Linked DNA regions of Homo sapiens. The protein of the gene in region 2 interacts with the protein of the main gene of each other region in a pairwise test. Each region holds a gene or a part of one and is shown on either strand. Other genes may lie near its edges.

Evidence for each region.
Region 1: the proteins of ZNF711 (region 2) and KCTD5 interact in a two-hybrid assay, tested with the Homo sapiens proteins (one study listed by BioGRID).
Region 3: the proteins of ZNF711 (region 2) and PHF8 interact in binary tests that used the Homo sapiens proteins (3 or more experiments, as listed by UniProt).

The regions. Positions count from the first base shown.
Region 1 is NC_000016.10:2,704,831-2,710,815, reverse strand, and holds the end of KCTD5 (BTB/POZ domain-containing protein KCTD5), read right to left. Parts: intron 3,519-5,985; coding exon 3,489-3,518; 3' UTR 1,786-3,488; downstream 1-1,785. UniProt on the Homo sapiens protein: Its interaction with CUL3 suggests that it may act as a substrate adapter in some E3 ligase complex. Does not affect the function of Kv channel Kv2.1/KCNB1, Kv1.2/KCNA2, Kv4.2/KCND2 and Kv3.4/KCNC4.
Region 2 is NC_000023.11:85,265,014-85,273,857, forward strand, and holds the end of ZNF711 (zinc finger protein 711), read left to right. Parts: intron 1-104; coding exon 105-242; intron 243-2,264; coding exon 2,265-2,402; intron 2,403-3,280; coding exon 3,281-3,328; intron 3,329-4,989; coding exon 4,990-5,133; intron 5,134-5,637; coding exon 5,638-6,815; 3' UTR 6,816-8,344; downstream 8,345-8,844. UniProt on the Homo sapiens protein: Transcription regulator required for brain development.
Region 3 is NC_000023.11:53,935,013-53,944,989, forward strand, and holds the end of PHF8 (histone lysine demethylase PHF8), read right to left. Parts: intron 9,232-9,977; coding exon 9,122-9,231; intron 8,391-9,121; coding exon of another isoform or gene 8,352-8,390; exon of another isoform or gene 7,603-8,351; intron 5,505-7,602; coding exon 5,168-5,504; intron 4,235-5,167; coding exon 4,146-4,234; 3' UTR 3,048-4,145; coding exon of another isoform or gene 2,969-3,047; 3' UTR 1,668-2,968; downstream 1-1,667. UniProt on the Homo sapiens protein: Histone lysine demethylase with selectivity for the di- and monomethyl states that plays a key role cell cycle progression, rDNA transcription and brain development.

The DNA.
Region 1 (5,985 bases), on a different chromosome or scaffold from region 2:
CATGCCACACATCACATACAGCACACATGTGCATGCCACACACACCATGTGCACACAGGCACACACCACACCCACACCATGTACAGCCAGTAGGTACACACACACACACACACACACACACACACACACACACACACACAGAGCAGGAGCGGGAGCCCCAGGAAAGAAGTCTGTGGGCTCCATTCGGGCCAGAACTGCGGTGAGGGGTCAGCCACAGGCCAGGCCTCCCTGTGCCGAGCCCCAGGCCTGGGAACACTGGGGAGGAAGAGGTGGTCTGAGGGCAAAGTGACCCATCTTGGGGGGCACGGCTCAGTGCAGAGGTGCCGGAAGTCATCGTCCCTCACACAGATGCCACGTCAGGGCCTTGGTGGCTGCACTGTGGGGTCAGCTCTTCATCGCCCCAGCCGGCCACTGCCACGAGCTTTAGGAGGAAGGAGGGTGCTAGAAGTCCCTGCTGAGTGGACACCAATAAATGCAGGGATGTCAAGGAGGGTGGTGCCAGCCGCTGGAGGGCTCCAGTCATGGGCTCTACAGGAAGCCTGGGGAGGACGGGCACCCACGCAGGGCACCTGCATGTGCCCCGCCCCTGCCTCCTCTTCTGCCCCCACGCTGGCTTCCTGGAGCCACAGGGCTGGGCCCCAGTCCCCACAGCGGGCGGGCTGTGCTGGAGCCCAAGGTCTGAGGAGGAACAGGGCTCCCTCCCTGCCCAGCAGACCCAGCGGCCCTGAGCATCCTCGGCTTCAGGACCCAAACTGCAGGGCCTGTCTCCTTTACAGCCTTTTGCTTGGATGGGAAACCTGCTCCGGGCTTTGGCTGGGGACGCCTGCCACGCTGAGGCTTCTCCCAAGTGCCCACAACTCTACCTGGTCAAGGGGCTGTAAGGCCTAGCCAGGCTCCTGGTGGGAGTCGGGCAGCGGGAAGACCCCTTGGAGCAGAAACTGGGTCTCTCCCCTACTCCAAGCCCCGTGCCGGCCTCATGCTGGGCACCCAGAAGCCCAGTCACCCACTCCACCCCTCACCAGGGCCCTGGGGTCAGGCTGGGCCAGCCACACACCTGGAAACAGGATGGACAAGGCCACTACAGCCTGAGGCTCTGTGACCTCAGACAGCCAGGCCCTGGGGGACACCGTGAATGGGAATCTCCCTGCGGGGGGGCGGGGAGTCCAACAGCCAAGGCTTCGTGGAGCAGCCACCAGGAGGAGTCACAGCAGCTGGCGAGGGGGTGCCGGGACCCCAGGACCTTCTCGGGAAGCTCCTGCTGTCACAACCCAGGCTGCAGGCTAAAGTGAGGGAAGAGAGGTGGATGCTAACTTGAGGTATCAGGACTTTCAAAAAAACATCACTTGAGCCGCGCGCAATGGCTCACGCCTGTAATCCCAACTGCTCAGGAGGCTGAGGCAGGAGGATCACTTGAGCCCAGCAGTTCAAGACCAGCCTGGGCAACATAGCAAGACCCCTGTCTCTTAAGGAAAAAAAAAGGCCCTTGTACATGGTCTCCGGTCTCCCGGGATGGGGGTATGCTATCTGCTGGAGGTAGGTGAGGGGTCCAGGCAGAGTGGGGTGCAGGGATGGGCCGTGCAGCTCTGATCCAGTGACCCTGGCCAAGCCGGCACCCCGTGGATGGCCCAGCTCCGCCCTGGCCATCGACTGAGAGGCAGAGGCAGAGCCCTGAGTGAGCCGCCGCGGCCAGTGGGGCTGGGCGGCTTGGAGGGGCAGCACCTTGGTCCGAGCGACCCGGGGTGGCATTCCCCTGCATCTTAAGACCATAAACAGCTACTACGCGCATTCATAAATACACAATTTTATTTGCTATTTCCAGGGGAAACTTAGGCATTAAACTGTAAGCTGATAAAATACGATACCTAAAAAAGTATAAAAGTATAAATATCCCCTTAGAATAAATTTTAGTGAATTAAGTCTTAATATCTTTAAATTAAAAAAACCACAAGCCTATCTACTATGTCAAGGTCAAAAATCAAACAACGCTAAGCGGCCAGCAGCTCCCCAGAGAGGATGCCCAGGAGCCCCAGCGGCCGCCTTCCTCCCAGGCTCTGCTGGGGCTAAGTCTGCCTTCTAGAAAGGCTTTTATAAATTGTTTAAGCCAAACATTTAACAACATACAAGAGACCTTACAAAAAGAAGGAGGTAAGTCCTAATGCTGGAGAATTGGTTAATCAGGTGACTGGCAAAGAGGAGGATGAGGCCTAGGCAGGAAGTCTCCAGAAGCATTGGAAACCAGACAGTGTCAGAGCCTCTGACCTGCAGGCGGGAGGCCGGTGGTCAGTCTGCACAGTACCCCTTGGGAAGCCGGAGTTCCGGAAGCAAAGCGCTTGGAGCCCGCCCTGCACGCCGAGTCCCCAGACTCTGACAGGTCCCCACAGCCAGCTGAGAAAGGTCTGTTTTCAAAGCATGCGGGCAGCGGTTTCTAAAGGAATCCCAGCAGCTCCCACGGCATGTCGGGCAGAGCCCGTGCAGGTCGAGTGAAGTCCCAAACATCCCAGAAAGAGAGGGAAGGCTGCATAGTTATACAAAGAAAATGAGAGAGCGGCGAGAGAGAGGCATTTGTGATGCTCTGTAAACATCCCGAATTTTCACCGTGACGCAGACCTTCAGCTCCAGAAGCCAGTGGACAGGCCTCCAGCCCAACCTCTATGCCAGGCGTGACAAGGCACTGACAGACGCCAGCTCCCCGTGAGCCCGCAGTGGGAGGGGCGAGGCGACACTGCTACCTCGCGCTAACGGATGGAACAGATCAGTCTCCACGCGGCAAGCCCTGTGGGCATTTCCAGAGGAAAAACGCTGGGGAGTCTATCCACACAGAGAAGGGGTACAAAGTTCTCTTGCCTGGAAAATACAAATTGAGAAGCCTTGACTGTCCCGGGCTTGGTCAGGTGGGGTTGGAGCCCGTGTCAGAAGAAGGCCCGGCCTCGGAATGGCGCCGGGAAGCAGTGACGACGCAGAAGCCGCCTTTGTCAGGAGCTCTGCGAGGTCGAGAGAAACCAGCGATCCCGCCTGGGAGGCAGAGCAGACTCCCTGACCGAGACTAGGGCCTGGTGGTCGGACCAGAGGCCACGACGTGCTGGACACTGACGCGGCTGCGGCCGCTTCCTGCCAGTGAAGCCCAGGCTGCTTTTCCAGACTGTGTGTAGCACCAAGAACGCTTCCTTCACACGATCTTCAGGATCGAGCGGGCTGACTGGGAGTGTCTGCCTCAGTCCCACGTGGCACTTGGAAAAAACAGAGCGAGGCCCCCCCAAGAGGCAGCGCCCACCCGGCCGCCGTGCTCCCCCAACTTGGGGACGTCTGGCCTTGGACAGCTGGGCCCGTCTCTCACCACCCACCTCAGAGGCAAAAAAGGATTCACACCCAGATCTCTAGAAAAATGATCAAAAGCAGGTTTCTTCTCACAGCCAAGCTTCCTGGACATGGCAGTTCATTACATCTCGGGAAAACGTAAATCATTTCTTCAGCTGTCAATACTGTGTCCCTCACATCCTTGAGCCTCGTTCTTGCAAAATCTGAAAAACACCAAATGCATAAAATGAGGACTTGGGCTGAGGAGGTGTCCCTGACCAGGCGCCTGCTCCAGAAAACAGAGCCCACAGGCCTGGGGTTAGCTCGGGGAGCCCCGGGAACCCAGCGGCACTGGCCAGGGTCTTGGGGACTCAGCTGGCAGGCCCAGGACCTTCACCGGGGTGTCTGGCACATCTCCAGGCCCCACACAGGGAGCGCTCACTGTGCATGGCAGCCCCTCCCAGACCCACCCAAAGGCGCTGACTCTTGGGCCTCTCAGCCCACTCAGTCCTGGGCCTCAGACATGAAGCGCAACTCGGCCCGCGGGTCCCTCAGCAGTCCAGTCCCCCCTCCCCAATTAAGTCTCTCCCTCTGTTCCTCCATGCCCACTGCAGCCCCCACCCCCACCCCGACGCCCGGACCCTCCTGGAGATGCCCCTCACCCAAGCCCTCGGCCCTGCACCTCAGCCTGGCCAGCCCACCTCATGTGCTGGCCCCTCCCGACTGCCCCATGGAACAACCACCAGCCCTCAGAGGGCCCTACCCCAAGTGCAGATCACGCTGCGGGGATCCCCTCCTCATCTGTACCACGTCAGCCCTGCAGAGCCCACGGCCCCTCGGCCCCCTGCCCTCCCCACCCTCCAATCTCCTCAAAACTCTTCCTCAAGGTACCCTCCCCACTTCCCTCACCAGTGTCCAGGAACCCCCTGAGGCCACCCCCAAGTCGGCCTGGGCTCCCCTGAGGACAGGCTCAGGCGCTGGCCAATGCTGCTGAGGTGAACTCCCAAAATGAGCCATGGCAGCTCCAGAGACCAGGTGGAGGGGAAATCACCCCACGCTCCCGAGCAGAGAGCTTCGGAGCCAGCCAGCCTCACTGTGCGTGGCCCACAACAGCTGTCTCCATGTGTCACGTGAGGGCTGCCCAACACCAGGTAGGGCAGCAACGCCCACGCCCTCGCCGGGCACAGCCTCCCAGAGGTCACTGCCATGCCGCACTGACCGGAGAGAGGGCAGTGGTGAGAGGTGCATGCCACCCCAGGCTTGTTCCGAAGGCTCCTGGAGGCCACGTCCCCTGAGCTGCTCAGCCTGACTCCAATACTCCACCCCCCAACAGCTCTGCCGTTCCCAGGCGGGTGCCCCCCAGGCTCAGTGCCCTGGACCACTTCTAGCTCGAGGCTCCCACTCACTCTCCAGTGCCTCGGAGGAGCCCATCCCCCTGTGCGAGGGGCAGCACGTCCCTCCCTGGGCCAGGGTGATTCCCAAGTTTACTGGGATGTCTGGAGTTGACTTGGGGAGACAGTGCAGCCCCCAAGCCCCCACCAGCCCTGTGTAAAACTAAGTAGCGCAGCGGACAGGCCAGGAGCAGTGTGGCATCTGAGCATCCGGGAGCCCCAACAGCTCCCTCCTGATGAGGGCAGGAGACACCCTGGAGACCTGCAGCCAAAGTGCTGTCCTTCGCCCTCCCAAGGCCGGGAGCAGCACGGGCTACTCTAGACAGAGCCTGGGGTGAGACCCATCTTTTCTGGACACACTGTCTCCCTAGGCCATCTTCCACAGGAAGGTCCAACTGCAGACACCAACCAGGGGGCCCTTGAGGCTGTACCCCATGGCCAGACACCCCCACAGGCAGGCAGGCCCGGGTGGCTGAGGGGCTTGCAGGACACGGCTGGCCTGGGAGGCTTAAGCGCATCAGGGATGCCGCAGGATTTGGCAGCTGAGATAGGGGTCTGCTGTCTGCCGCACTGGTCCTGACCCCTTGGCCCTGAGCCTGTGGCCTAAGCCAGACAGGAAGGTCACCCACTAGGGCTGGCGGCACGAGTGGCACTCCCTGCCCAGCCCCCAGGAGGGGCTCTTGGGTTCACGACCACTGATGTCCACAGCCTGGCCTGGCACGGGCACCCTCCAGTCATCCCAACAAACGCCCCAACACTGCCCCTGGGCATCTGCCTCACAGCAACAGCCCCACCACCAAGACAGTGCTACTGAGGATCTACAGCTGGCATGGAGTGCGGACGGCTCTCGTCAACTACAGGCAGGGACAGACACACAGGGAGGGTCTGTGGCAAGGGTCAGCTGGGGCCATGGGGTCAAGGAGGCCACGGAGCTCACCATGACATTCACACTTAATCTGAGCCACTCCCTGGGTGCCCCTGGTCCTCGTCGTCACTCTGGCGGCGTGCAGCGCGCAGTGGGGGAGAAGACAGGCTGTCAGGACAGTGCGGGTGGGCGGGTGCCCCGGGCCCAAACCCCCACGCCCGGTGACCTTCCAGTGAGGCCACGCCACGAGGGGACACACAGGCTCAGGGGCTCTGCCACATCTCAGAGGTGGAAACCTCCACGTGTGAGGCGGCTGCATCTTGCGATCCGGGGCTGGTCCTGTCCCACCATGTGCTGAGGGGCTGAACCCTGTCCAGAGGCGCCTGGCCTCTGGCCCCACTCCTGGCAGGCGGCGCTAGCCCACAGATCTCGGCC
Region 2 (8,844 bases):
GAATTTATTTTTTTTCTAAGAAATATTTCTATATATTCTTCTTATTAATTTAGGTGGTTATTCCATGATACTTCTCTATTTTAATGCGTGTTTTAATTTTTAAGGTGGAACAGAAATTGTCACAGAGAGTGAGTACACCAGTGGACATTCAGTAGCTGGAGTGCTTGACCAGAGCCGAATGCAGCGGGAGAAGATGGTTTACATGGCAGTTAAAGATTCTTCTCAAGAAGAAGATGATATCAGTAAGAAAATAAGGGCACTGTAGTGACTTATCAGTAGCCATCATGCATTATTTTTAAAAAATCTCAGAGATACAAGCACTGTATAGGAACAAAGTTCAATAAAATAAGCCTGATCCTTTGACCCTTTGCTGTAAATAATTTAAAAGTGAAGGGTCCTTTTGACCATTCATTTGTACATGTATTGTTCAAATCACCAAACATTAAATAATATATCTTAGTATACTATACTAGAAATACAGAGATGAACAACATACAGCTCCTGACATCAGTGAAGCTCAAAAATATGTAATTACTGAGTACCTACTTTCTGTGCGTTACTGAATATGTTGCAAGATACTATCTCATTTAATTCTTACAACTCATATCTGAGGTAGGTGGTATTTTTCCTGTCTTATGGAAGGAAAAAAAAAGATTCAGGGAAAATAATTTATCCAAGATCATTCCAATATTAAGTGTGAAGGGCAGGATTTTAATGGTTATCTAACTCCACTGCCAATGTTCTTTCCACATGGCAGTGGGCACTGTTGGCTTCTCTCTGGATTTAGCAATTGAAGGGCTGATGGTTTGTTCTCCTGTCACTAAAGGGTTATCTTATGTAAGTATTCTTCCAAGCCAAGCTGCCAGGAGTTTGATTTCCTATGCTGTTGATGGTCTCCAAGCAGTTGCTGCTTAAGGTTTTGTGGGGCTAAGTACCACAGGACGATCAAACCTCCTCAGGTTTCCTTTCCTGCCATACCGCAGGTTTCCTTATGAAGACATTTTGCTCTCTGCCTACTTTCTCCTCACCTCAGTATAGGAATGCAGCCCTTTCCTAAGGCTATTCCTGTCTTCTTACTATGCTGAGAAAAACACAATATTGCCTTGCCCTAGAAGGCTAAGAGCCTCCATTTCACTGCATTAACTTGACAATATTGGGCTTTACCTGTGCTGCACTCTGATACCTACTCCAAGTTTCCTTCCCTAGAAGTTGTAGGGTGCTGAATTCCACCCCCAAACAGCTGAAAATATCAAAACAAATGAGTGGAGAAGATTCTGATGGATAGGAAAAGAGTTTAATCAAATAATTTCTATTTGATCTCTAAATTCTTTATTTTTTTATTTATTGGTAAGGAAAGGGGCACAGTAGGAAATGGAAGATTGAGGTTTAAGTTAACTTATGCCAGAATTCTATGGGAATGTGGGAAACTTAGACCAGTGTCTCTTTTTGGTTAATAGAGAGAAGACAAACTTGGGAGAAGAGGGATACTTTTTTCCCATGTTTTTCCCCACATTTCTTCTGTAGTCATCCAGGATCCCAGTATGTGAATCAAAGGAAAAGCAAAAATTCAAGACAATTTTCTATTTAACAAGTTAAATGTAAACAGATTATTTTATATAAAGTATATTGTGGCTCTCTAGGTTTAAATATTTTTTTTTTCTTACCGCAATATTGTTTTGTTCAATGAAGCTCATTTAATGCTTTCTCTCCTCAGTAGAATCTCTTAAAATCTGGCCTATTGAAGAGTGTCCACATATTCTTGATCACTAGCATTATATACATATATAATTTTTATTTTTATTTTAAATTTTTTTCAATTACAAGTATTTTTGGTGATTTTTATTACATGTATAGTACTGCATTTCATTTATAATACAGTATACGAGATAGTATGGACCACTTTCTAGTATTATTTCTATGAGAAATATTTTCTGAGTCCCAAAAGACTGTCAGGCAAATAAATGTATAATGCCTGATAGAATGTAAGATCATTCAGTATATTTCAAGCGCACATGTTTTTATAAAATTTTTAAAAGCCATTTCCATAGAACTTGGTTCTAAGAGGAGAATAAGAGTTTTGGTAAATGATTGTCTCCTAGTGGCACTAGCCTCCAAAAGTGCCTAATATAAATTGAAATTAAATTTATAAATTTTTAAATTAACCAAACTGAAATTTGAAAGTTGAAAGATTTACATTGTTTGGAATTTTTACCCACTTATTAAATATTTGGGGTTATAAACAAGCAATTATTTCTAAAATTTAGGTTGCGCTGAAATAGCAGATGAAGTTTACATGGAAGTCATTGTAGGGGAAGAGGAAGGAACTTCTCTCCCTGAGATTCAGCTTGAGGACTCTGATGTTAATAAAACAGTTGTCCCTGTTGTCTGGGCTGCGGCATATGGTAGGATACTGGCATTTTTTCACCTGATAAGTACATAATATGTATTTACTCAGCCTTTAGGCCATTAAATAAGCTTTGTGAATGCCACCATGAATTGGCTAATATAATAAAATGTTTTACACTGTGGACTGATTCATCTCTAGTTACTTTAGATGATTTTTCTACCACATACCTTGTACTATTTAAAATGAACCTTGCTTAATGCATTATGTTTTTCAGTATGATCTATTTTAAATCCTACCTGTATAAGTGAGTGCCATAAAAAATTTTATTTTTCTAAAATAGGAATATCCTTTGAAAATCGATCCTTCCTCTTTTGGAAAAACTTATTTCATTTATTAACTCTACAGATGATAAAGTTTTGGGGTTTTGAAAAAGAAACAGAAACCCAGGTATGCTCTTTTAGAAAGCATATAATGAAAGGTAAATTTATCAACTTATTTTTCCCTTTCAGTCTTATTTTATTTCATTCCTATGTAACGTACAAGATGGTCCAGGTATACTCTTTACTTTGAAAAATTTTGATGTTCAAATGCATTAATTTATCTAAACTTGGTTCTTCCAAAGGTTCATTCATTCAGTTATTTATTGAGCATCTTCAAAGTTAGGGGTACACTGCAGAAATATCTACCCAGTTTTCATTTAAAAAGTAAAATTGTTCTAGATGTTAACAATTCCAAGGATGCTGAACAGCAGCCCTTATTTTCAGTATGTGACATTATCTAACCTATAGGAGTGGAAGAACACAACAATTTTTTTTAACCCAAGGAATGGTGGGCAAAGTAAGATTTTGTAGATTAAGATGTGATCCACTAGTAGTCATTATAATTAGCATATCAGTTTGTAATTGGTCTTTTTTTTTTTTTTTTTTTTTTTAGGAGATGAAAGAAGAGTTTCCCGAAGGTATGAAGATTGTCAAGCATCAGGTAAGAGAGCATTGTATATGAGATGTGAGTTAAAGTTCTGGCTTTATTTTATTTTACTGCTTGGTAAGTAACAAGTTTGTGTCTACAGACACATTTGTTGGACTCTTACTTGCTTAGTCATACCTAATCTAGTTAGTTAGGAGTTTCTTCTTTGAGGAATTAATTTATGTGTGGACATAATGTGTGTTAATCTGTAAATGCAGTTCCATTTAGATTTCCCTCAAACTTTAAGCATCAGGCAGTTTATCAAATGGACCATAACAGGTTGCTATGGAAAAAATGAAATAAGAAATTATTTGGACAGAAAAGTAAAAATTATTCATGATATCAACCCCTTGTTAATGTTCTTTTTGGGGCAGAACTGTTTTCTTAATTTCTATGGCAACCAGTGCATTTATATATAACTGTTATATAAAACCCATGTGTCAGCTTAATTTTTTTTAGTTTTAATACACTCTATATGGTGTTGTTCTCTAGTTGATCTTCTTGTTAAGTTTTCTTAAGCAAGGAGATATTTTCTTATGATAATGTGTCATTGTTCTGTTTCTACCCTTGGGAAGTATTTGACTCTCTAAACTTAGGTGTTGATTTCGAGAAATTGATGAGAAGTATAGATCACAGCATGTAAGTTAACCTGACAGTTTTGTAGGTCTACATTTTTTAGCTAAATTGCATAAAACCACAATGGATTTTTGATAACTAGGATTTTATTAAGTACTTTTTAATGTATGCACTGATCACACTGAAATTGCAATAAATTGCCTACCATATGTTAACCCGTAAAATCAATCTTAATATGTAGTACTCTTTATATCAAGTACACTATTCTGAAGCATATCTGCAAGAGATCTGTTTCGTTTTTTATGCATTACACTTAGTCACCATAACTATAATGGTTCAGTAATATGTCTACATTTCTTTTTCAATTAATTTCATCAGCCTTCATTGGTAAAAAAAAATTGGTCTGATGCCAAGATTTTGTTTCAAATTCAGTTTCTTTTCTTTCTTTTTTTTCTTTTTCTTTCTTTCTTTCTTTTTTCTTTTTTTTTTTCAAGAGACAGGGTCTTCTTGCTCTGTTACCGAGACTGGTGTGCAGTAGCACAATCATAGCTCACTGCAACCTTGAACTCCTGGGCTCAAGCAATCCTCCCATCTCAGGCTCCTGAGTAGCTGGGACTACAGGTGCATGCCACCATGCCTGACCAATTTGTTTTTTGTAGAGACAGGATCTTATTATGTTGCCTAGGGTGGACTGAAACTCCTGACCTCAAGCAGTCCTGCCTCAGCCTCCCAAAGTGCTGGGATTACAGGTGTGGGCCATCATGCCCACCCCAAATCCACTTTCTTATATTACATTCATCTTATCAGTTTATTCCTGATAAAATAGAGATATTTTAAATTTAATTGATGATCAAATTGAGATATTTTAAAGTTAATTTCACATGATATCCTATTCAAAGTATTTACAAATACATGTCTTTACTTGTGAGTGAGAGAGAACAAGAGTGAGAGAGAGAAAGAGAATCATAAGATGGATATACTTTGTGAAATTTACTACCAGAGTGGTAACTTGGTGTCATGTCATCTGTAGTAACTCATTCAACAGAACCAAAAAAGTATAAATGTATGTGATTTAATGATGTTTCAATTTTTTTTTCCAGGAAATACTTTGGACTCAGCATTAGAAAGCAGAAGTAGTACAGCAGCACAGTACCTTCAAATTTGTGACGGCATTAATACAAATAAAGTACTTAAACAAAAAGCCAAAAAGAGGAGAAGGGGAGAAACCAGGCAGTGGCAAACAGGTAAATACTTTGCTTTATGAATATTATAATTATTTGAGATGTGGAAGTATTTTTTGTCACCAAAGAAAAATATCGATGGTTTACTTGGCAGTTCTACTCTCCATGTACCTGTTTGTGTATGCTATAGATAATTGTTTTTTTTTTTTTTTACTTTGTGTGACTGGTACTTAATAAAACTATGCTTGTTTGCTCTTTATTCCAAAGATACTTTTACAGAGAATTTTCAGGTTGGTTTAACAATAAAGGGTACCTGTTTTTGGTATTCAAAGTATATATGATATTGCATTTTGGCATGTGAGTGGTTCATAGTAGAGTGCTGCTCATTACTTTTTAGTGAGCTACTTTGCCATAAATTGCTTTTATTATGTATTTTTTATATTACAGGATTTCATTCAACTAGTATTGTTTTCACATAGTGAATGCCAACTAGTTTTGGCACCTTTGTTATAAAATCCTTTAAAACAGTCTGACCAAATGTCACAACTTTCTCTTTTCTTTATCTAGCTGTTATAATAGGTCCTGATGGACAGCCCCTCACAGTGTACCCTTGCCATATTTGCACAAAAAAGTTTAAATCCAGGGGATTCTTAAAAAGACACATGAAGAATCATCCTGATCATTTAATGAGAAAAAAATATCAGTGTACAGATTGTGACTTTACAACTAACAAGAAAGTGAGTTTCCATAACCACTTAGAAAGCCATAAGCTCATAAACAAAGTCGACAAAACCCATGAATTTACAGAATACACACGAAGATACAGAGAGGCTAGTCCACTGAGTTCCAATAAACTTATTTTAAGAGACAAGGAGCCGAAGATGCACAAGTGCAAATACTGTGACTATGAAACTGCAGAACAAGGACTGTTAAACAGGCATTTGTTGGCCGTTCACAGCAAGAATTTTCCTCATGTTTGTGTTGAGTGTGGGAAGGGTTTTCGACATCCTTCTGAACTCAAGAAACATATGAGAACCCATACTGGTGAGAAGCCATATCAGTGTCAGTATTGTATTTTCAGGTGTGCAGATCAATCAAATCTGAAAACTCACATTAAGTCTAAACATGGTAACAATTTGCCATATAAATGTGAGCATTGTCCCCAAGCATTTGGTGATGAGAGGGAGCTTCAACGCCATCTGGATTTGTTTCAAGGACATAAGACACACCAGTGTCCTCATTGTGACCATAAGAGCACCAATTCAAGTGACCTTAAGCGGCACATCATATCTGTCCATACTAAGGATTTTCCTCACAAATGTGAGGTCTGTGATAAAGGTTTTCATCGTCCTTCTGAGCTCAAAAAGCATAGTGATATCCATAAGGGTAGGAAGATTCATCAGTGCAGGCACTGTGACTTTAAAACATCCGATCCATTTATTCTTAGTGGCCATATCCTTTCAGTTCATACTAAAGATCAGCCATTGAAATGTAAAAGGTGCAAGAGAGGATTCAGACAACAAAATGAGCTAAAAAAACATATGAAGACCCATACTGGAAGGAAGATTTACCAATGTGAGTATTGTGAATACAGCACTACAGATGCATCTGGCTTTAAACGACATGTGATATCAATACATACAAAAGACTATCCACACAGGTGTGAATTCTGCAAGAAGGGATTCCGAAGACCATCAGAAAAAAATCAGCATATTATGAGGCACCACAAAGAGGCTCTTATGTAATAAGATCAATATAAAGAAAGAAGCTATTTAGGAGATATGATATGCTACTTGGGAGAAAACTCTCACTAACTGTCTCACCGGGTTTCAAAGCTTGATACTAAACCATGACTTTACATTCTTTGTATTAAAGATCTTAAAATATTTGAATTCACAGGGGATCCCATAGCCCTTTGAAAATTACTTAAAGAATTTAAGAAGCACTATAGAATGGTTACAGAAAAACTTCTTAAGTATCTGTGTAATAGTATTATATGCATACTTAAACTACAGAGGGGAAAAGCAAAGACAAATACTTTATTTGGCTGATTATGTTAGATACAAATGTTTCTGAGAAGAGAATACATAATTGAGTTTAGTGATGCTTTGCTATAGCAAGCAAACCCACTTTTATGCAATTTTAGAAATGGGGCAGGGAAACAAAATGTGGTCATTCATCAGTCACTTAGTCATTGAGCCTTTTATATTGTACCTGGAAATTAAATTCCAGCAATGACAAAAGTTTTGTGTATTCATTAAAAGAAAACTAACTGGAAAACAGGTTAGATTAATTCAGTACTATTAAAAAAGAATTCAGAGCTGTTAATATTTTATCACAGGATAGGATACTTAAAATATAGCATTCTGTGCTGAGATCTAAGGTGAAGTCTATAAAGATTAAAGTTCCCTTTTTTCTGATGTTCAAGTTGATTGTTGTTCAGTATGGCATATATGACAAAAGTATATTTGAGTCAAATGTGGCTTTCTAAAATGGATGCAACATTAGCGTTGCAAACAAAATCAGCACTATATTTCTTAATGATCTAAAGATTAATTTGAGAGAACACAGTTTTCTTAAATATTATAATGTCTAGAGTTTTTTTAGGACAGTCTTAGCAAGTATGATTGTTCTAGTCTTACTTGCTCTAATGTTTAAAGGTGCAATTTTATGCCATTATTGAAATTGATTTTTAAAATCTATATACCATATGATTAACATGCATTTTCAATATGAGGCAGTGTTTATGCAGTATTTAACAGAGCAATCTGCTGCCAATAGAGTTTGGAGGTGGATATTTAGTTTACAGTGTATAAACTTAAAATATGCATCCCTTTAACAACGCTTTGTGTTAGCATGCTGCAAATCAAAATGGCACTTAATATTAAAAGCTGGTTTAGGGAAATTTTATGAAAATCCTGTTCATAAATGTAATGCATATGATATGTACTTTTAAGTTTTAGTTGCTTCATGTTTACATTCAGCTGTTCAACATAATTAAAATGTAATTTTACTTCATGCTATATTGTGGCTTTGTGTTTCAAATAATGTTCACCTTTCTGTTTTTGCACCAGATAAGAATCAGTTCCTTGAGAATAAATTTTTTATCTTTCTTAACTTCAGAATATTAAATTTGGAATATCTACTAAAATTGTGTGTTATGTGGCTGTAAATGATGTACACGCTGTAAAATAAGATCGCTACTGTTATGTGGGATTATTATTTCTAAATGTTACTCATTGAAATGAGCATACAATAAAAAGCATTTATTGCACTTAATGGTTTTATAAGTTTATTTAAAGTTTCCATATTTTTTATTAAAAGACTTCACTTCAGAGTTACTTAGGCAGATTGGTCCTTTCTTTAATGTCTTGTTGAATTTTGTTCATGAACAACAACATGAACTAGGAATTTAAACAGTTACGATGACTATGTAATGCATATTTCTTAAGAATGTATGTTATTTGCTAAAATCATAATGAAATACTATAAATAAAAGTGTCCATTTTAAGATCTTAGATTTCATATTAGAGAGAAAACTAAAAGTTCTTAACTTGCTTAAATGACACAATCCTGAGCAGTGAATACATCTAATTATGTTCCCAATATACATTCAAAAGGAAAAGTATTGTTGTGTGTATTTGGCAAAGATTTCTGCAAATGAGCATAAAAATAACTTTCTATGTTCAAACCAGTGAGCATTTCATATAATTCTATATATATGGCACTGTTAGTTAAGACTCTTTGTCAGTTGAATTATTAATTATTAATTAA
Region 3 (9,977 bases), about 31 Mb from region 2:
TGGGAATTAACAGCATCCAGAAAGTTTAGGGGCAACCAAGCTTCTAGAGGGCTTCATAGTTAATTCCATCTTGCAAATGTAGAAACTGAAGACACAGACAAGCAGTTTCTCCCAAATTACTTGGTTAGTCATTGAGAAGGAGGGCTCTTTAGCCACAAGTCCTGTGCACTTTTCCACTCCATACTGGAAAGGGGGATGACTGAAGTTGGGTGCCTCGTTTCCCTCCCAATTTTGAGACAGGAACCTCTGAACTGCTGGCACCTCCTGCCTGGACTGAGGAATAAGGTGACCAAGATTCTAGCTTATCCTCTAACCTGAGGCTGGTAAAAACAAAGCACGAAAAAGTGCTTTGTCCCTTGACTGAGGAAGGTGGGGTGGGAATTGGTGACAAAAATAACCCAGCCCATCATTCCTGCAAAGGCTTTAAAGCCCTTCTTTCCTGTTTCCTTTCTACCAGGAAATACAGTTCTCTATGCTTCAGACATGAACATTATCAAAACCCCACCTACTCCTGAGACAGACTGTGAGAACTGGAGGAGGTCATTTAACCAGTAGGTGCCAAAACCAGACAGCCTCACTCCAGACCCACAGAAGCAGAATCTCCAGGAGGAAGTAAATCTTGACTGGGTTCAAAATACTTTAATAGATGACCCACAGACAGTAAGCAGCCTGCCCTGGCTCACCCACAGAGTCAGGGTGGTGGTGAATTTGAAACTGAGGCTCCCAAGATCACCCTGGGAGCTCTCCTTAGGAGATAACTCTCAATTCTGCATCTTGCACATAACAGAGGCTTAATAAAGATCTGTTGGGTGCTTGAGCCTCAGAAGATTTTCTAATATGGTGAAGGCAAAGAACATAAGTTTTGGAATCAGGCAGATCCTGCTGCAGACCACTGGCAAACTTCAGTCTCCTTAAACTGTTAAATAGGACGAATATCCTCATGGGGTTTTTCAGTGAGGATTAAATGAGATATCCCTAAGTAAAATCCCTAGCCCAATGCCTGGCACCCAAAAGGCACTTAATATAATGGTAGTGTTTATCAGTGAGAAGTGGTAGAACAGAGTGGTAAGAATACACATTCTGGAACCAGGTTGGTCCCAGAATTTTCATGTATGATACAGGAAGGTTACTTTGTTTCTTCGCTGGCAGGATGAGGGTGTTGGTGAGGATGAAATGAATCAATAAAGTATTAAGAGCAGTGCCTGGCACAAGAAAACAAGTGCGATAATCGTGAAAACAAGCTCTGATAATTATATTCTTCTAACCCATGTACTGGCCCTAAGCACAGTAATCAAGTCCAGATTGCACAACAAGTGCATGGAAGAGAGAGGGAAAGAAAAAAAAAATCCCACATTCACAGAAAGAGGACACACTTGAAAAAGCAGTCTCTGGAAAGCCCTCCCATTGAACTTGTTAGGCCCCTTTGAATTATTGCACCCTTTCTTTTCTGCTCAGTCTGCTTCTGATGATCTACTTCAGGTGTGTGAAGCGTGTCCCTCCTGAGGGTGGGAATACCCTTCCCACTTCAAGCATAAGGCTGAGCACCAGGGAAATGCCTGACAACTTGCTGAGGGAGAGACAAAGAGTACAAGGAGAAGGCAGCACTCCCAGACCCTGCACCACACCACCACCCTCATCACAAAAAAAAAGAATGCCAAGCAAAGCAATTGCCAAGATAAATCACTTTTATCTCTATAGGAAAGGGAGGATCTAAAAAAAATATAAATTACATTAGTAACACAACATAAGAAAAAGACAGGGACAAAAACAACAGAGAAGTCTGAATGATGCTACCCTAACCTATTTATAAAAAGGCCCTGCATCAGAAATTCACAATCCTACCCACTTCTAAAAATATATTTAGACATGTACAGAAGCGGTGGGCTTGTTTTTAAATTGTTTGCTTTTTTTGTAAAAATATATTAAAGGTGAATAGAAATCCTCTCTCCCTTCCCCCTGTCCAGCCCCCAGCTAGGGACTGGAGATCAGGGGTAACTATCTCATGGTGTTCTAAACCTTGATTACTAACACTCCCAACCCCTCCCCAACTCACTTCACTTAGAACCTGAAACATTAAAAAAAACAAAAACAAAGACATCAGCCTCTTTGGAAAAGCATAACTCTGAGGGTAAACTTGCTTTTCATTGGAAACAACACAAAACAACAAACAGGGGGCTCTAAGAACCCAACTAAGCTAAATGAAACCCAGTCAAACAGAGGCTGGGTTTCAGCTCCACAGAAAACTTCTAACAAAGAAATAGAGGGAAAAGGCCGGAATCGGGGGGATTTGCTAGCAATTAGCTGCCTTTGAAAGATCAAGAAGGGGTGTTAATGGACAAAAGGGCTGGGGACCTGATCTTGGTTACAGCAGTCACCGCATAGTCAGGCAGTTGCCTATACAGGACAGAGGCTTCTCCTGCTCTCCCCTCACTACCCTCTGCTGCCTTGAAATCCCCAAAATAAGCAAAGCTGGGCAGAAACAGAGGGGAGGGGAGTAGGGACTCACGTGCTAGGGGGGAGGTAGCCAGGCTTTTTGCCTTTGGTGTGACTAGATGGAGAACTGCTTGGCCCCTGGGGTCCCCAAGGTAGAGAAAGCAAATGGGCTAAAGGAACCCCTGATTCCAAGGAAGGAAAGTAGAGGCAGGGCTATGGAGAAAAGAAAGACAAACTGGAGATACAAAGATGACAAAAGAAGCCTCACAAATTCCCTGTGGCCTGCATGGTAGCTATTAAATTCCCCAGAAGCATTGGGCAAGCTGGGGTGAGGTTGGAGTGGGTGGTACAGGTGGAAAGGGCAAGGGTACACTCCACTTGGGTAGTGCCAAATGGAGGTGGGGGGATGTTCTCCATCGAGTCCAGATTGCCAGTGAGGCAAGGCGGTGGGAGGTGGGGGCACTGTCTGGACAATGGAGACAATCCACGAAGGAAGGACAGGGGAAGGGGAGGATCGGATGGATGGTCTGCTCCTTCACGGATGGGCGTCTCTTCTCTTCAACTTGGGCTCGTGAATGGCCTGTCTGCATTCTGCTTGAACGATGACCTGTCGTCTGGAAGTGCAAAGGCCCAGGAGTGAAGATGTGAGTCCTGAGGTCTTCTTCAGACCAAGACCTCAGGTGGAGAAAGAAGCATGAAAAGTTCCCGATGGAGGACCCAGGTGTGGGCCGTCCCGCCACACCCTCCATAATGTCCAGGCTGTGCTCTGTGGTATAGGCGGAGCAAGCAGGCTGTAGGGCCAGGGTTATCTGCGTCATTGGCAGGTGCTTTCAGGTTTCTGGGAGATGGTTTTCCACCTGCCAGGGCCCAGCCACAGCCACAGCCACAGCCACGTGGATAATGTTCTACATGATTTCAAAATCCAGGCAAATCCCTGGAGCTCACCCTAAAACAAGTGGCCTCATGTGTAGCCAGCTAAAAGTAGCTTCCTCCAACAGGCTACAAAACCGTGGTCAAAGGCTTGGGCATCTGACCTCTCCCTACCTTGACAAGTGATAGGAATCACCTTTCTTTTGAAAGGTAAGTGAAGTTGGCATTTCTAGGCCACTTCTGGAAATGGCCCACAGTGGGGCAGGAAGGAGGCTCTAGGCCTTCCTCTTCATTTCCATGAAGCATTTGGCAAGAGGGGGCAGAGACCACAGCCTTCTCCCATGAGCAAGTCTGGAGGTGGGGCATGTCCACTGGACTGGGGAAATGGGGCAAACAGAATGGGTGGAGGTGGGCAGGCTTCTGGATATAGGGCTAGAGTTGCAGAAAGTGTCAAGCACTGGGCTTCCCACTTCATGGCTCAGGCTCCTTCATACCTCTCCTCATCCTGCCTTCCAGCTCTAGCGGGGGATGAAGAATAAAGAACAGACAAGGCAGGTGACGGGAGTGGTTTGGACGAGTAGAAAAGAGGGTTCTAGTCAGCTGGAAACCTCTCCCATTTACCTGCTCCTCAGTGGAGAAGGCAGGCAGGATGCTCTAGTGAAAGTGGGGAAGGGAACTAGAAGGAGTCGGTGGAGGGGTCCGTGCCTTTGGTAAGTCCCAAGAAAGCAGGACAATGCACCTCAGCACCTTGTCCAGGGCAGATAGGATCCAGGAGTGCCCCAAGAGTTGACAATGGAGAAGGCAATGGGGGTAAAGGGGTGAGGGGTGGGACACAGGAGGGCTCACAGAAGTAGTTTGCCATTTCTGTGGATTTTCAGGATACGGCCGAGTCTCTGCTTTGCTGTGGCCAGGCCCTTTTTGGGACGCTTTCCTGTGGGGGAAGGGAAAAGTAAGCAAGGGCTTTGGCAAGGGCTTCAACATCAAATCTGGCACCAACTGCCCTCAGGCCACCTCCCCTTCCTGTTTCTCTACCCACAAAGTTTCTCCATCCTTAGACCATATTGGGCAGGAAGCCCTCCTTAACTACTTCCAACCAACACCACATGCTTTGACTCTTCCTCCTATGACCTCCTGTAGCAGCAAGACTCCCTGATTACAGTTTGTCTAGTTCTTTTTCTCCACTGATTACTCTGGTCCCAATCATTTTCCTTCCAAGATCCTGCAGGGAGGTAAATGTACTTCCATACCCTCTTATCCTACCCACCAGGACTGGACAAGTGCCTGGTTAGTGATTAGAGCTCAGTGTCCCTGAAGTTGCCATCCCTAGGGCCTTGCTTCATTAGAAACTCTCATCTTCATCAGCCTTCAACATCACACCAACCTCCATGCCCTTGAGCTGCGTACTCTAGGGACTGGGCTTTGAGGACCAAAGTGAGGGAAAGGAAGGCTTCAGTCCTCTAACTCTTTGTTGTCTCTGTCTCCCCACATTAAATCCCCTCCCATGTCCTATTTGACTGCCTCCATATTTGATCAGTTCATCTCCTTCCTCTCCATTCCCTCTGGCAGAGCCCCAGGTACTCTTCCTGCCTGCCTGAACTTGTATATGTGCCTCCTCCCTAGAGTTCCCATCTCTAGCCCACCCTCTACCTCCTTCTGGCCACCAGAAGGATCTTTCAAAACTAAAACCTGATCTTGTCTGTACTTCAAATCAGTCAACATCTCTCCATGGCCCATAAGATCAAATCCAAGCACCTTAGGTTGGCCTTCAGTGTCCCTCCCTGGTATTGTCATCTACTAGAGCACTTAGGATTTAGGGCAGGTGGCTCTAAGATCCTTCGGTTCTACAACCATATGGCCGTTGTACCTTGTCCTGCCTGATTGCTCTGGGAGCCAACTGAAGGGCGCCGCTGGGTCAAGAAGACACCGGGGGCCATAGGTGTGGTGCTGCGGTTTGCCTGGGCCATGCCAAAGGCATTGGGACGAGCGGTGTACTCATGGTCAGCGAGACTTCCTGACAGGGCCTCTTGTTTAGGCTCAGGAGGAGGCAGGGGTGAGGAGGAGGTGACAAGTTGTGGTGTGGCAGCCACAGTGGGGGCTGGTACTGTCAGACTGAGATTGGAGTCTTGAGGGCGAGGCTGTTCTACCTCCTTCAGCAAAGGCTTCTTCTTGATATATTTCTTCTTTTGGGCCTTCTGTAGCTCCTGAAACACAAGCCAAGTAGGAGGAGAGATTAAGGAGTGAAGAAGACAAGTTCCCAGGAAAGGAACTAACTAGACAATGTCCAATATGGTTGTGCAACCTGCCACCCTCTCCCTTACCTGCACCAAGTCTAGCCTGGATGTACACACAGCACATAACAGGCCTTCCAATACCTGAGATCATCTCTTTGTTACCATCCATCCTTAAGTCACCACTGTCACTTATTAGTACAGTGCCAAGAAAGCTGTAAATGAATTTGGAGACTAGGATTTTGGTCCTAGTGTTGCCACTAATGAGGTAGACCTTGGACACGTCTAATGATAATAACTAAATTTACATCAGCAGCTGAGACACTTTATATACTTTATCTCATTTAATCCTCATAACAGCTCTAAGAAGAAAAAATCCTAATTTTACATATGAGAAAATGGAAGTGCAGGGATATTAAGTAACTTGAGCCCAAAGCCTCACAGCTGAAAAGTAGTTGGGACCACTATCTAACCAGGTCTATCTGAAGAGACACCTTGCAAACTTCTCAAAGTGGAAAATCTGAGCGTAGAAAGATTAGAAAGATTATTAGTTTTGGAATGAGATAAATCTGGTTCAAATCCAGGCTTGTGTCCCTAAATTGGATGACTATGGTCAAACTGACTAACCTTTCTGAATCTCAGCTACCTCATCTATAAAACAGGTAAAATAATATCTGCTTTTTAGGATTTTTGAAAAGATTAAGTGATGACATAAAAATACACAGCACATAGTAGATATTCGACAAGTGGTTAATTATTATTCTATCTTCATCTCTTATAATGGCTTCACTTCCTCTTGCTGGTCTTTTTCTTTTAACAGTGGGCTTGACAATCCTCCAGGTCACTGGGTCTAAAAACCTCACTTTGGGGATGGGAATGACAAATAAGGAGTTGTGTCACTTCTCCCAATACCTTGTATTTCAACCATCCACTGCCCTATGGATCTACTATCCACTGCATGGTGGACACTTGTATAGTGGGCATCTGGAGCCCTGAGAACCTGGAAAGGTGGTGCTGAGAGCATGTAAATCACTTCACCTTCTGAAATGCTACACAGCCACACAAACCAACTCAGTGATCACATTTTTTTGCCTTCTCTTGGCAACACAAGCCTAATCCTGCCTTCGGAAGATCTCACAGGCTGTGGCTACCACGGGCATTTCTGGGGTACAATAATAACAATATTAGTAATACATGTCAACCACTCTTCTATAATTACTCATTTAATACTTGTAAATACCCAAGAAGTAAGAATTATAATCCCATTTGAAGGATGAAGAAACTGTGGCACAGAGAGGCTAAGTCATTTCCCTAAGGTTACAGGACCAGTAAGTGGTCAAACTGGGATTCACATCCAAGCCATTTGGCTTCAGAATCTCTTCCCTCAGCCAAACTGCTATTCTAACCATACCAGGAACTGCATTTCTGTCCCTTTTTCTCTCACTTAAATCCAGAATTACCTCTTCATATCTAGATCACTAGCCTAAATTTTGCTACCTTTGCTGCCAATCTCTTTCACATATAATTTATCCAGATACTCCCACAGACAACTAGACCATCTTATGACAGAACCACTTTCACCTTGCCAATCCCGTTGCTCAAAAAGCTGTTAGCAGATCCCCGCCCAAGTTCAAACTCCCTGGCCTGACATTCATGATCTTCCACAGTCTGGCTGTTTACACTTAGCCAACCCATAATGATAATGATGAAAAAAGCTAACAGGCCTATAGTACTTACTCCATAACAACTGCCATTCTAAAAGAGCTTGTACGTACATTACCTCATTTAATCCTAAAATGAAGTCTATGAGGAAATGAGGCAAAGAGAAATTAACTTGCCCAAATGGTAGAACTATTACATAATTTAAATCCAAGCAGGCTGACTCTAGAATCCATTCTTATAATCATTACTTATTTTAACTAATTCCCCAACATGAAATCTCCAATACAGAAAGATCTGTTTCTTTCTTTCGTTCATTCATTCATTCACTCACCCACCCACCCCAATACTGACTAAACACATTTTCTGACCATAGTGGGGATACCAAGTTAAATTAAATATATTCCCACTCTTGAAGTATTCATAGTTTAATAAGAAACACCAAAACATACATTTATGATTGTAAGTACCACGAATGTTGTAGAAGCATATAGAAAAAGGCCTCTGAAATAAAGTGGTGGTAGGTAGTATGAAGGGCTGTTAGGTAAGGGATCTGATAGGGTATGATTCTCAATGGGTAAAAGGAACATCTTGTGTAAAGGCACAAAAGCATGAGACAATCTGATATACTCACTGAGGGGACTATGAGTATTGCAGTGCACTATGGCTGTATAAAAGGTGTGCATGAGGGGCTGGAAGGAGGTCAGGGAGATGACTAGAGACCAAATCAAGAGGACTTTAAGAGGGCTTTGTGTGCTATACGAAGGAAGTCCCTTCTTTTAGAATGCCTCCCTGGCCCCTACCAGAAGCTTAGCTTGCAAAGCCCCTCCCCAATTTCAAAACCTCTTCTTTGAGGTTATCTCTGATCATCCCAAACAGAATTTAGCTCCTTAAAAGGCACTAAGAGTAATTTTCACAGCTTTACTTAATTTATATTTATATAAAACAGTAGAACCCCCTTTTTCAAATTACAGCTTACACTGTATTGGGATATACATAAGAGACAGAAGTTCTGGTCAAAGAAGATTGCCAAAGATTTAAACACTATTTAAATAGGATGTAATGACTGAACTACATAAGCATTTATTTAAATAGAAAGTAATATGAAATTTGAAGTTAGAGGATATGAGTTTGAGTTGTCTCCTCCATTTACTGGCTGTATTATCCTGAGTCAGTTAATGAGAGCTTCATTTTCTTCACCTATAAAATGATGAAAATATCACCTGTTGAACAGGGCTATTGGGCAGATAGATTACATTACACATTATATATGGAAGCAACTAACAAAGCAGATGCTTAACAGTGCTCTAAGCTATAGGATATGGGATTAGGAGCTAACGGGATATTGATTGCAAGATAACCAGAGAATTCACCTCCAAAGGCTCCTAAGCACATTACGCACATTAAAGAACTTTTAGATGTAATGCTAGGAGATGAATTTGATTCTAGTGAAGATCACTCTTTAGGACAAAAAAAAAATTTGTGGGTGAAGATTAAGATAATATTATTTCATAAAGAGGACAAGAAAAATTTCTAATCAACCAAATTCCAATACTGGTGGGTGGCTGAGAACTTGAGCGTACTCAGCTGAGTCACCCCCTCAGGGCTTCATATGAGAGCAAAGGAAGGATCTGGTCCTTCTCATCTGAGAGGTTTTTACACACCAAAAAAGGTAAGTGGGTTTTTCTCTGGCCTAATATTTTCTTTCATCCTGAATCATGTCAACTGTGTAACCTGTGGAAGTAGCTTATCATTGAGTTGGGATAAGAGGGATTTAAGAGGGGGCTGGGATACTGCCAAGGATAAAGATCAAAGGTTACTCAATCCCCATTGAGACAAAGGTGGGATCCTATCAGCCTGCAGGTCTAAGTGTTGAGGCTCTAAGTCAAACTGCTATTAGTTGCAGGGTGACCTGGGGTGTCAGCACCTACCTGCTGGGCCAGCTTTGCAGCTGCTGCAGCCAAACCTGTCTCAATAGAGGCTACCCGGGTCCCCTCACGCACAGGACGGTCCTGCTTCGGCAGAGTTGGGGTCACGCGGGCTGCAAGGGAAACAGGATGAGAAGGTGTCACTAAGACATTTATCCGAAGGCTAGCCATATTCCCTACCTCCAAGCTCTCCAAAGGTACTCTCATTGGTCTTCCTGCTTCTAGCTTTTTATGAAGCCAGATTTTGCTTGCCATCACATAAGAACCTAATTCACCAATGCTCAAAGCACACACTGATTAAAGGATAAAGGTAAACCTCCCAGAGGGAAAAAGAAAAAAAATGTGAACCTCCTTTGGCTGGGCATGATGGTTCATGCCTGTAATCCCATTGCTCTGGGAGGGTGAGGTGGGACCCTGTCACTACAAAAAATTAAAAAGTTAGCCAGGTGTGGTGGCATGTGCCTGTAGTCCTAGCTACTTGGGAGGCTGAAGTGGGAGGATTGCTTGAGCCCAGGAGTTTGAGGTTACAGTGAGCTACGATTGTACCACTGCACTCCAGCCTGGGCAACAGAGTGAGACCCTGTCTCTAAAAATAGAACAATAAGCCAGGCCAGGTGCAGTGGCTCACACCTGTAATTCCAGCACTTTGGGAGGCTGAGGCAGATGGATCACTTGTGGCCAGGAGTTCGAGACCAGCCTCGCCAACATGGCGAAAACTTCGTCTCTACTAAAAATACAAAAATTATCCCGGCATGGTGGTGCACGCCTGCAGTCCCAGCTGCTCAGGAGGCTGAGGCATGAGAATTGCTTGAGCCTGAGAGGCAGAGGTTGCAGTGAGCAGAGATTGCATCACTGCACT